Linked DNA regions of Homo sapiens: regions 2 and 3 are each linked to region 1. Evidence: fine-mapped expression QTL. A gene starts in region 1. Each other region holds a variant in brackets. All regions are shown on one strand. Distances are from middle to middle.

Evidence for each region. PIP is the estimated chance that this variant, and not a neighbour inherited with it, causes the effect.
Region 2: its variant is fine-mapped to the expression of CDCP1 in testis (GTEx, PIP above 0.99).
Region 3: its variant is fine-mapped to the expression of CDCP1 in testis (GTEx, PIP above 0.99).

The regions. Positions count from the first base shown.
Region 1 is chr3:45,145,177-45,147,937 of GRCh38, forward strand. It overlaps CDCP1 (CUB domain containing protein 1), which reads right to left and starts at 1,202. Exons shown (of 9, transcript NM_022842.5): 1 at 1,030-1,202. The coding sequence starts at 1,111.
Region 2 is chr3:45,090,712-45,093,472 of GRCh38, forward strand. It overlaps CDCP1 (CUB domain containing protein 1), which reads right to left. Exons shown (of 9, transcript NM_022842.5): 6 at 2,566-2,761; 7 at 462-827. Among named protein-coding and RNA genes, the nearest start is that of CDCP1, 54 kb to the right of the region's middle. The variant C/T (reference allele first, on the strand shown) is at 1,571.
Region 3 is chr3:45,066,589-45,069,349 of GRCh38, forward strand. It overlaps LOC124906233 (a long non-coding RNA gene), which reads left to right and starts at 1,569. Exons shown (of 3, transcript XR_007095898.1): 1 at 1,569-1,755. The variant T/A (reference allele first, on the strand shown) is at 1,632.

The DNA of each region.
Region 1 (2,761 bases):
AAATTCAACCTCACTTGCGTCCTTTTATTCCTTTATCTAATTTACACCTGCCAAACACAAATCCACCCTAGATGCAGCAAGGGGAATCAAACCCACATGGCTTCCTGGAGAGCTCTATTTAAAAAACACAAAACCTGTACTAATCTCGCGAAACCTGTACTAGCCTCACATCAAGTTCTTACATGAAGAAACCAGGTTATTTACTACGTTCTAATACATCCAGGGCCCACAGGGCATTTCCTGGCTGGCACAGGTCACTGGGACGTGTTGGTCCCTTCCCCCAACCGAAACAACTCGAAATTCACACATATCCCCGGAACAACAGCCTCCTGCCCTCAAAGTCCACTGCCAAAAAGTGCGAGGGGCGCGGGAATGTCCAGTCTCTGCGGTGGCGCAGATGCCTGGCGGCTTTCTCTGGGACCCCCTAAAAGAAATCCGGGCGCTTTCATTTTTGCACCAACGCTCTTCAACTTTAGGAGAGGGGGAATGCAGCGTGCGGACGGGAAAAAGGGGATCTAGTGGGAAATGCGGACGTGAAAGCACTTTTTTTGCACCTTCTCTCTGGACCAGGCGAGGAGGTAGAGGGCGAGCCTGGAGAGGAAAGATCTCTTCCCACACCCTGCCTGGGTGCTTTCAAGAATCCCGGCAAAGACCCTGGGGCGCACGGCGCGCCACCTTGGACATGTCGCCTGGGATCGGCTACCGGGAGCTCCTTTTCCCGCCTTCTCGGCCAGCACCGGGCTCATCCTCCCGGACCGGGAGGCTCCCCGATCGGGGACACTCTCACGTGCCGAGGGCAAGGTTGACTCCAGGAGGGCAAGGCCCACGCGCCCGACGCGGCGCGCGCAGGAACCGAACAGTCCGGGGGTCCCGGAGCCACCCGCGCATTTTGACTACGCCGTCCCCGCCCTCTCTCCGCACCCTCCGCACCCTCCGCACCCTGCGTCCCTCGGCCGCATCTCCGCCGGGCGTCCGCTGGCTGGCTAGCTCACCACTCCACGCCATCCGCCTCCAAAGCCCGGCACTCACCTGCCCCGCGCGGCAGGCGCGCCGCACCCAGCAGCAGAACCCCTAGCAGTGCGATAGAGACCCCGCAGTTCAGGCCGGCCATGACTCCGGGACGCCTCGGCCTCGGTGGGGAAAACGACGGTGGGGAGCGGCGGCCCCAGGCGCCCAAGCCCGGCGCAGCTGCGCTCCGCCCTGGCTCACTCACCTGCGCGCGGGCGGACCGGCCCGAGCCCCGCCCTGCGCAGCAGGATCGCGAGCTGACCCGGTGCGTCCCTCCTCTCTCTCCTCCTCCTCTTCCTGCCTCAGCGACCGCCTCTCCCTCCCAGGGTGCAGGGCTCCCGGCACCGGGTTGCTGGGTCCCTACTACTCCCCATTGCGGCGTTGGAGCGGACTTGTCCCCACCTTTCCGGGCTTAGTCTTCCTTCCCAAGTCTGAGAATGATGAGGTCTTTTTCTCCAGAGTCGCGAAGGTCGCCCATAGAGGAAGCCAGTCTACCTTCCCTTTTCTGTCGAGGAGACAAAGGCCATTATGCGCCTCGTTTTGGAGAAGAATCCTATTTGTGGGCCACCCAAGCCCTGGATCCTCTGCTACTTGACTTGGGCCAGAGGTCTGTTGGACTTTAAAGCCGGTGGTGGTACAGCTAGTATTTGCAGGACGGTGAGCCTGCAGCCTACTCCACACACATCACCTGCAGTATTTCCAGACACGCAACGTGTCCAAGGTCCCCAGGGTAGCTAGTAAATTAGAGGCAGATGCACCACTTCGTTGAATTGTGAGTAGAGTAGTATGCATCCCTTCACTGAGCTGTGGATGGAGTAGTATGTGCCCTTCTCGAGTTGTATTATAAATGGAGTAGTGTGTGCAGTGTGAGCGTGAAGCATTCAGGTCAAACGTTGGGCTGGAAAATGAATGAAAAATGAATGGCGCTGGACTCCTTTTCCAAATCCTCCCAGCCGCAGGTGTGCCACCTGCCTGTCTTCAGAGGCCCTGTGGGTTCTCCTTCCACCCTGCCGGCCATACACCAAGTCCAGGCCACAGGCAGAGATTGCGGATGGTTCAGGAGTTCTTAGCTAGCAGACCTGGGTTCTGCCAGAATGACTCCCTGGGACTACTTGTGTTCATGGATAGCCAGAAGCTGGGCCAGAGTCACCCGGAGCAACCTGGGAGGCTTGGGACAGGAACCAAAGCATGTGCGACAGCATCAGTTTACAGTCCAGTCCCAACTTCTGCTTAATTCTTGCGGGCACTGAGCCTCTCCAGGCTGCCCCAATCCTCCTTGTGGACAGGGGTGGGAAATCATCTCCTAGGAGCGTCACCCCTTCCTTCTCGATGTCCTTAATCATGAGAATAGAGCTAGCTCTGCCCTCTGGGAGCCCACAGTCCATCGAGGGAGGCAGAACTTGGAACATGACCCTGCCCACACCCCCACCTCTGGGAGGGCCTGTATCGTGAGCTAAACGGGACCTTAGATGTAATCTTCTAGTCCACTTCTGTCCTTGTGCAGAAAAATGGGAAAACTGAGAACTAGAGGGAAGGGAGAGGATGAGAAACGAAGAGAGGCTCTTGGTTCTCCCCACTGAATCGAGGACAAATTCATCAAGAGAAAGAAATCTTGACAAAAATCTAAACAATCTTTAAAAATATTTATGCTGACCAGGAGGGTGAAAGGAGATTTGTCTTTTCTCCTGATTCTAAGCAGGCATATATATCCCAGCATCTTTTCCTAACATCCATGACACCATTGTTTCCCACA
Region 2 (2,761 bases), 54 kb before region 1:
AGACCTTATATGCCTCCTCCAGTCTCTTGTGGATCTCTCTGCCTCTGCCATGAAAACAGCCCAGGCTGGAGAACAAGAGATCATGTAGAGTCAAGCCAAGTAATCTCAGTTGTCTCAGATGATCTTGGCTGAGCCTCAGCTTTTTGAAAGCACCAAGCTAAGATCAGCAAAGTCCTCTAGCCAACCTGCAGCTGCCAGTAGGTGCATGAATGACTGAGCCCTGATAAGTCCAGCTCAGACCAGAATTGCCCAGCCAACGTTGGAGCAATAATAGATGGCTGCTACTAAGCCACTATGTTCTGGGATGGTTTGTTACTCAGCACTATTGATGCAATAGCTGACTGATACATGGACAGTCAGGACTCAATCTGTGATTCTGACTTGTCTCCAGGCTTGCTCTCTATCCTCCAGCTGACAATTTTTTGTTCATCACTGTCCCCAAAGACCCTGAAGGCCCTTACCCACAGTCCTTGGGGTAAGTGTCACCGAGAAGAGCAGGTCTAGCTGCTTGCCGCTCGTGGGGCTGCAGTTAGAGATGTTGACCCAGAAGCTGTGATGGTGGAAGCTTGGCTTGGGGAGCACATCCTCGTCCAGGCTGAAGATCTCCTCAGCCCGGGTCCGCTGCTCCTGGATGATCATGAATGCGCGCCCTGTCTGGCAGACCACGCCGCTCCGCTCCTTAAAGAAAGTCAGGCAGGCCACCTGGTCTCTGGGCACGCTGATGTTCCAGGACACAGAGGTGAGGGATGGCAGGCCCCGGTCCCAGTTGGGGGTCCTCAGGTAGACCTTGCTTTTTGTGTCAGGGGTCACCGTGAAAACGCCTTCCTCTGCAGGAAAGGGAGGGAGATCCAGACAGATGTTTCATTCAGTCAACATGGAGAGGAAAGGGAGTGGTGGAGGAGACGAAGTCCAACTGTCCAGACCAGCGCTGTCTAACCGAACTTTCTGCGATGATGGAAATCTTCTAGATCTGCACCATCTGATAGGGTAGCCACCAGCTATATGTCTGCTGAGCCTTGAAATGTGCCCAGCATGACCAAAGAACTGCATTTTAAATTTGTTTCATGTTAATTTATTATTATTAGTTATTTTTGAGAGGGAGTCTCACTCTGTTGCCCAGGCTAGAGTGCAGTGGCACGATCTCGGCTCACTGCAAACTGCAACCTCCACCTCTCAGGTTCAAGCAATTCTCCAGCCTCAGCCTCCCGAGTAGCTAGGACTACAGGCATGAGCCACCATGACCGGCTAATTTTTTGTATTTTTAGTAGAGATGGGGTTTCACCGTGTTGGCCAGGCTGCTCTTGAACTCCTGAGCTCAAGTGATCTGCCTGCCTTGGCCTCCCAAAGAGCCGGGATTATAGGCATGAGCCACTGTGCCCAGCCTCATATTAATTTAAATTCAAATCATTGCTATGTGGCTAGCACCACTGTATTGGTCAGTGCTGGATCAGTCTCAGTCAGAGTAGGTACTCAGGACTTTTGAAAAAAAACAAAACAAACAGGCAAATAAAAACCAGGCAAGTTTCCCAAACTGGTGGTTATCTCAGCTTCCCTTCAGAAATGCTCTCAA[C/T]GTAGCTACTATATTCATCTATTGCCCTCTCCGGGGTGGGGCTGGTATAGCCTGATTTCTGTTTCAGAGATTAAAATATCTTCAGGTTCTGGGAAGAGTTCCGGAACTGCAAAGCTGAAAGAGCTCCTGACACGTCAACTAATCCCTTCCTTACCTTCAGGAGAGATAAAACCCACACATTCCACACTGATGAGAATGTGTCTTATTTGCAAAGACTCCTCAGAAGGAGTTTCTCTGGTAACCTTGGAGATATCAGGCAGCCTGGACCCACCTTAATCTTATGACCAAAGATTCTTCTCCCTCCCACTCACACCTCAGAGAATAAGAGTAGGAAATAAACATCAAAGGTCTTGGTCAATTTTAAAATGGCCTCTAACTTAATGTTCTTGGAGCAACTTGTAATGGTGACTGTGACTTTTAAAGTCAACCATGTAGAAGTCACGTTGTGAGCCATTTAGACCTCATTTACTGCCTCAGAACATGGAGACCACATGCCAGCCTCCCAGGAGGGTCGGGTCTGCCCAGCCGTGCTGCTGGACTCTGGCTCCAGAGACTCGTCTCCCTCCCAACGCTCCTCCCTCTGTGCTCTCGGCACTGCATTCTGAATTGTAAAAGCAGAGTCATAAAAATGTCTGCCTAAGGATTTTTATGTCACTACCTTAAAAATCCGGGACTGGGGAATATCTGGCTATTTCTCATTTACGTCCTGCCTGCTTCCAAAAAAGACTCAAACCTGATAATGTTTTTGCTGCCTACCAACCATCGCCTCTCACTGTCAGAAACATTTTTTATTTCTAATCTCAGGAATTTTCCATGCTAGGTTAATGGTAAAGTCAGGATTAGGACTCACTATCTTTCAAATTTCTTGTGCAAGGACCAGCATATTGAGCTATCCCTTCTTTCCAAACTGGCAACTTAATTAAGGTGATCACAAAACTAAAATCAAATAAACGCTTAAACTAAAGGGGCATGGAGATAGGGGAGACCCCCCTTACCTTTGAAATAAGGTATAAAGGACACCGTCAGACCCTGCCTGGAGGCCTCTTGTTGGAAGCTGGGGGCAAAGGTGCGAAGGGTCACCGAGATGTTCTGCTTCACCTGGATCTGCTTGATAGAGCCTCCCGGGCAGAAGGAGCCGAAGTACAGGTCCTGGCTGGGTATGGCACTGGCCACGAGGTAGCTGAAGCTGGT
Region 3 (2,761 bases), 79 kb before region 1:
AAAATCTCTCAGGTAGCATCTCTCAGAATAGCAAAAAAAATCTGTCCAGTTGAGTGTGGTGGTGACCTTTAGCTTCTTCTCTAGTGATTAATCTTCTCTGGTTAATGAGATTTCAGACAGGAAATTGAAGGCAATTGTGTCTCTTTTGGAAGAACTTCCCTCAGTTAGGTGAGGGAACTTCAGAGAGAGCCCTCCCTGTGCTTGGGGGAAGACACAAGGGAAGATCATAGACTTTGATTCTGGGGCAACTTCTAAGGCTTTCCAATTTATTTTAATTCTAAGTGCTCAGCATGCCAAAGCACCATGCTTTGGGGTATCATTTCCTGAGCCCCAACAATACATACCCATGTACACAAACATCATGGGCCTCTCACCCCACAAACTCCTTGACACAATGGTGGATGACTGTCTGATGCCCGTTTCTGTGGGTTTGCTTCTGGAACACTCTTAGATGAGGGGCCAAGCCACCCAGCAGCAGTGATGCCCTCAAAGGCCAGTCCCCTCCCCACTGGTTCTCTGTGGCTTCTCAAGGAGCAGCAAACTGGTGACTGTGACACAGCTGGACTAGGACTGAGCCTTAGCTCCCTCCTTTGTAAACTAGAGGCCTAAGGAAGGAACACTGAAATTTGTCATTTTGGATTGCTTAGTAACTATTCTCATTTCCTAATGGCATTCTGGCTTATTTGTGGGCATTTATACCTGTTTCCCACTGTGAGTGCTAAAGGGGTTGGATCACCCCTCTTTCCAGCCTGGCACAATCAGGGGTGGACCTTATGAGCTAGACTCAGCCAACAAGACATCCTCTTGGGGGACTCGGGGTTTTGAGTGAGGGGGCTGAGGACAAGGCTCATTCATTACTGTGGCAGCAGGTTCAGTGGACAGTTCTTGTGTCAAAGTGTAAGTAAAAAAAGTCAAAAATACGACTCATACAAAATAGGATGAACATGAGCCACAGAGCTTATTTAATTCATTAAGCAATGAGGGAAACAGTAAGATGAAAAGCTGGTTCTGAGAGCATATGAAGAATTGGGAAAGGCACACCAAAATAAACATTTTAAGTTGTACACAAACCTGGTTAATGTTCTATAGGGTAATAAAGCCATAGCGTACTTTCTGTTCAGTTTATGACATTAATATAATCCCAAGAGTTAGAACTAGGATTCCTCATCCTCCTTCTACGGAGGTTGCCAGACCTAAGTGCTTTTGGTACTCTCTTTCTCTTTTGATGCTGATTATTCGGGAAGTCACATGTGGCTCTGGATACTATCTTTCTTTCAAGATGTCAGGGGCATCTAAAAACCTGCCTGGGAATTTTTCTGTGCTCATGGGTGGGTGTTACATGTCATGAGATCAAGAACCCAAAAGCAGAGGATGAGATTGCCATATAAGACCTCTCGGAACCCAAGGCTTCATAATTGGAACATAGCAACATTTGCTGCATTGTTTTCCCATGTCTCTAGGTGACTGGATACTTATTATAGAATGCTGGTTGTTATGGTGATGAGAGATGGGGGAAACCAGGCCGATTGTACACTGTGAATGAAGGTTTAATCTATGTCATCCTTTGTCACAGGTCATCCTGTTGCCTGGGATGAAGTGTCACATAGTTTGAATCCACATTGCTTGCTGAC[T/A]TCATGGGGTGAATGAACTTTTCCAAGATTCTGGAAGCCTATTGTAATTTGTGTTCTCTACATTTTCCTGAGGTCCCAGGGATGCCGTGACTACTAAGCTCTATGGTAGGAGTTGGGGCAGGAGGTGAGTAGAGGTGACCAATGACTGGTGTGCCAAGGTCTTTCCCCCTCTGAGATTCCAGTCAATTCCAGGCATGGAGTTGTGGTTAAAAGAACCTCAGATGACATAAGAACAATACAACGGACATTGGGGACTTGGAGGAAAGAGTGGAAAGGAGGCAAGGGATAAAAGACTACAAATATGGTGCAGTGTATACTGCTCAGGTGATGGGTGCACCAAAATCTCACGAATCACCACTAAAGAACTTACTCATGTAACCAAATACCACCTATATCCCAATAACTCATGGAAAAATAAACTAAAATAATTTTAAAAAAGATTTAAATATAACCTCCTCAGAAAGGCCTTTCCTGACCACTCAAAGATAGCCACCCAGTTACTCTCTATATCATTCAGTTTTAATTCCTTAATTAGCTCATGCTGTTTATTTTGTAATTGTTTGTTCCCCACTCCAGATATAAAACACATCAGAGCAGGACCCTTATCTTGCTCATCGCTGTATCCCAGAGTGCTCGATAAATATTTGTTGATTGAAGGACCGTCTTCCGATTCAGTGACAGAGAGGTGGGCCATGAGGGAAATAAGGAAAAAAGTAGAAACAGGAAATGAAGAAAATCAGAAACAATTTAATACTCTATTGTGTGCAAAAATGAAGTAGAAAGAAGAGACAAGAAAATGTACATAAAGGGGTTAGAAGAAGGAGAGAGGAAAATAAATTACTGTTATGTTTTGGAAAAACTCTTAACTAGAGGGAAGGGAACTAACTTTATTGAGCTCCCTCTATGTAGGAAACCTAAATTACCAGATGATGTGGGGTTTTTGTTTGTTTGTTTGTTTGTTTGTTTTTTTGGACAGATTTTATTTCAACTTAGAGTCATCACCAAAATTACTTTCCTCATTTTCAACCTTTTCCTAGGAAGAAAAGAAAGTGAGCTATTTTATTCTATAGAAAGAAAAACAAATGCCTATTTGTTTTCATCAAGTGAAATTGTCAAGGATGACTGGCAGT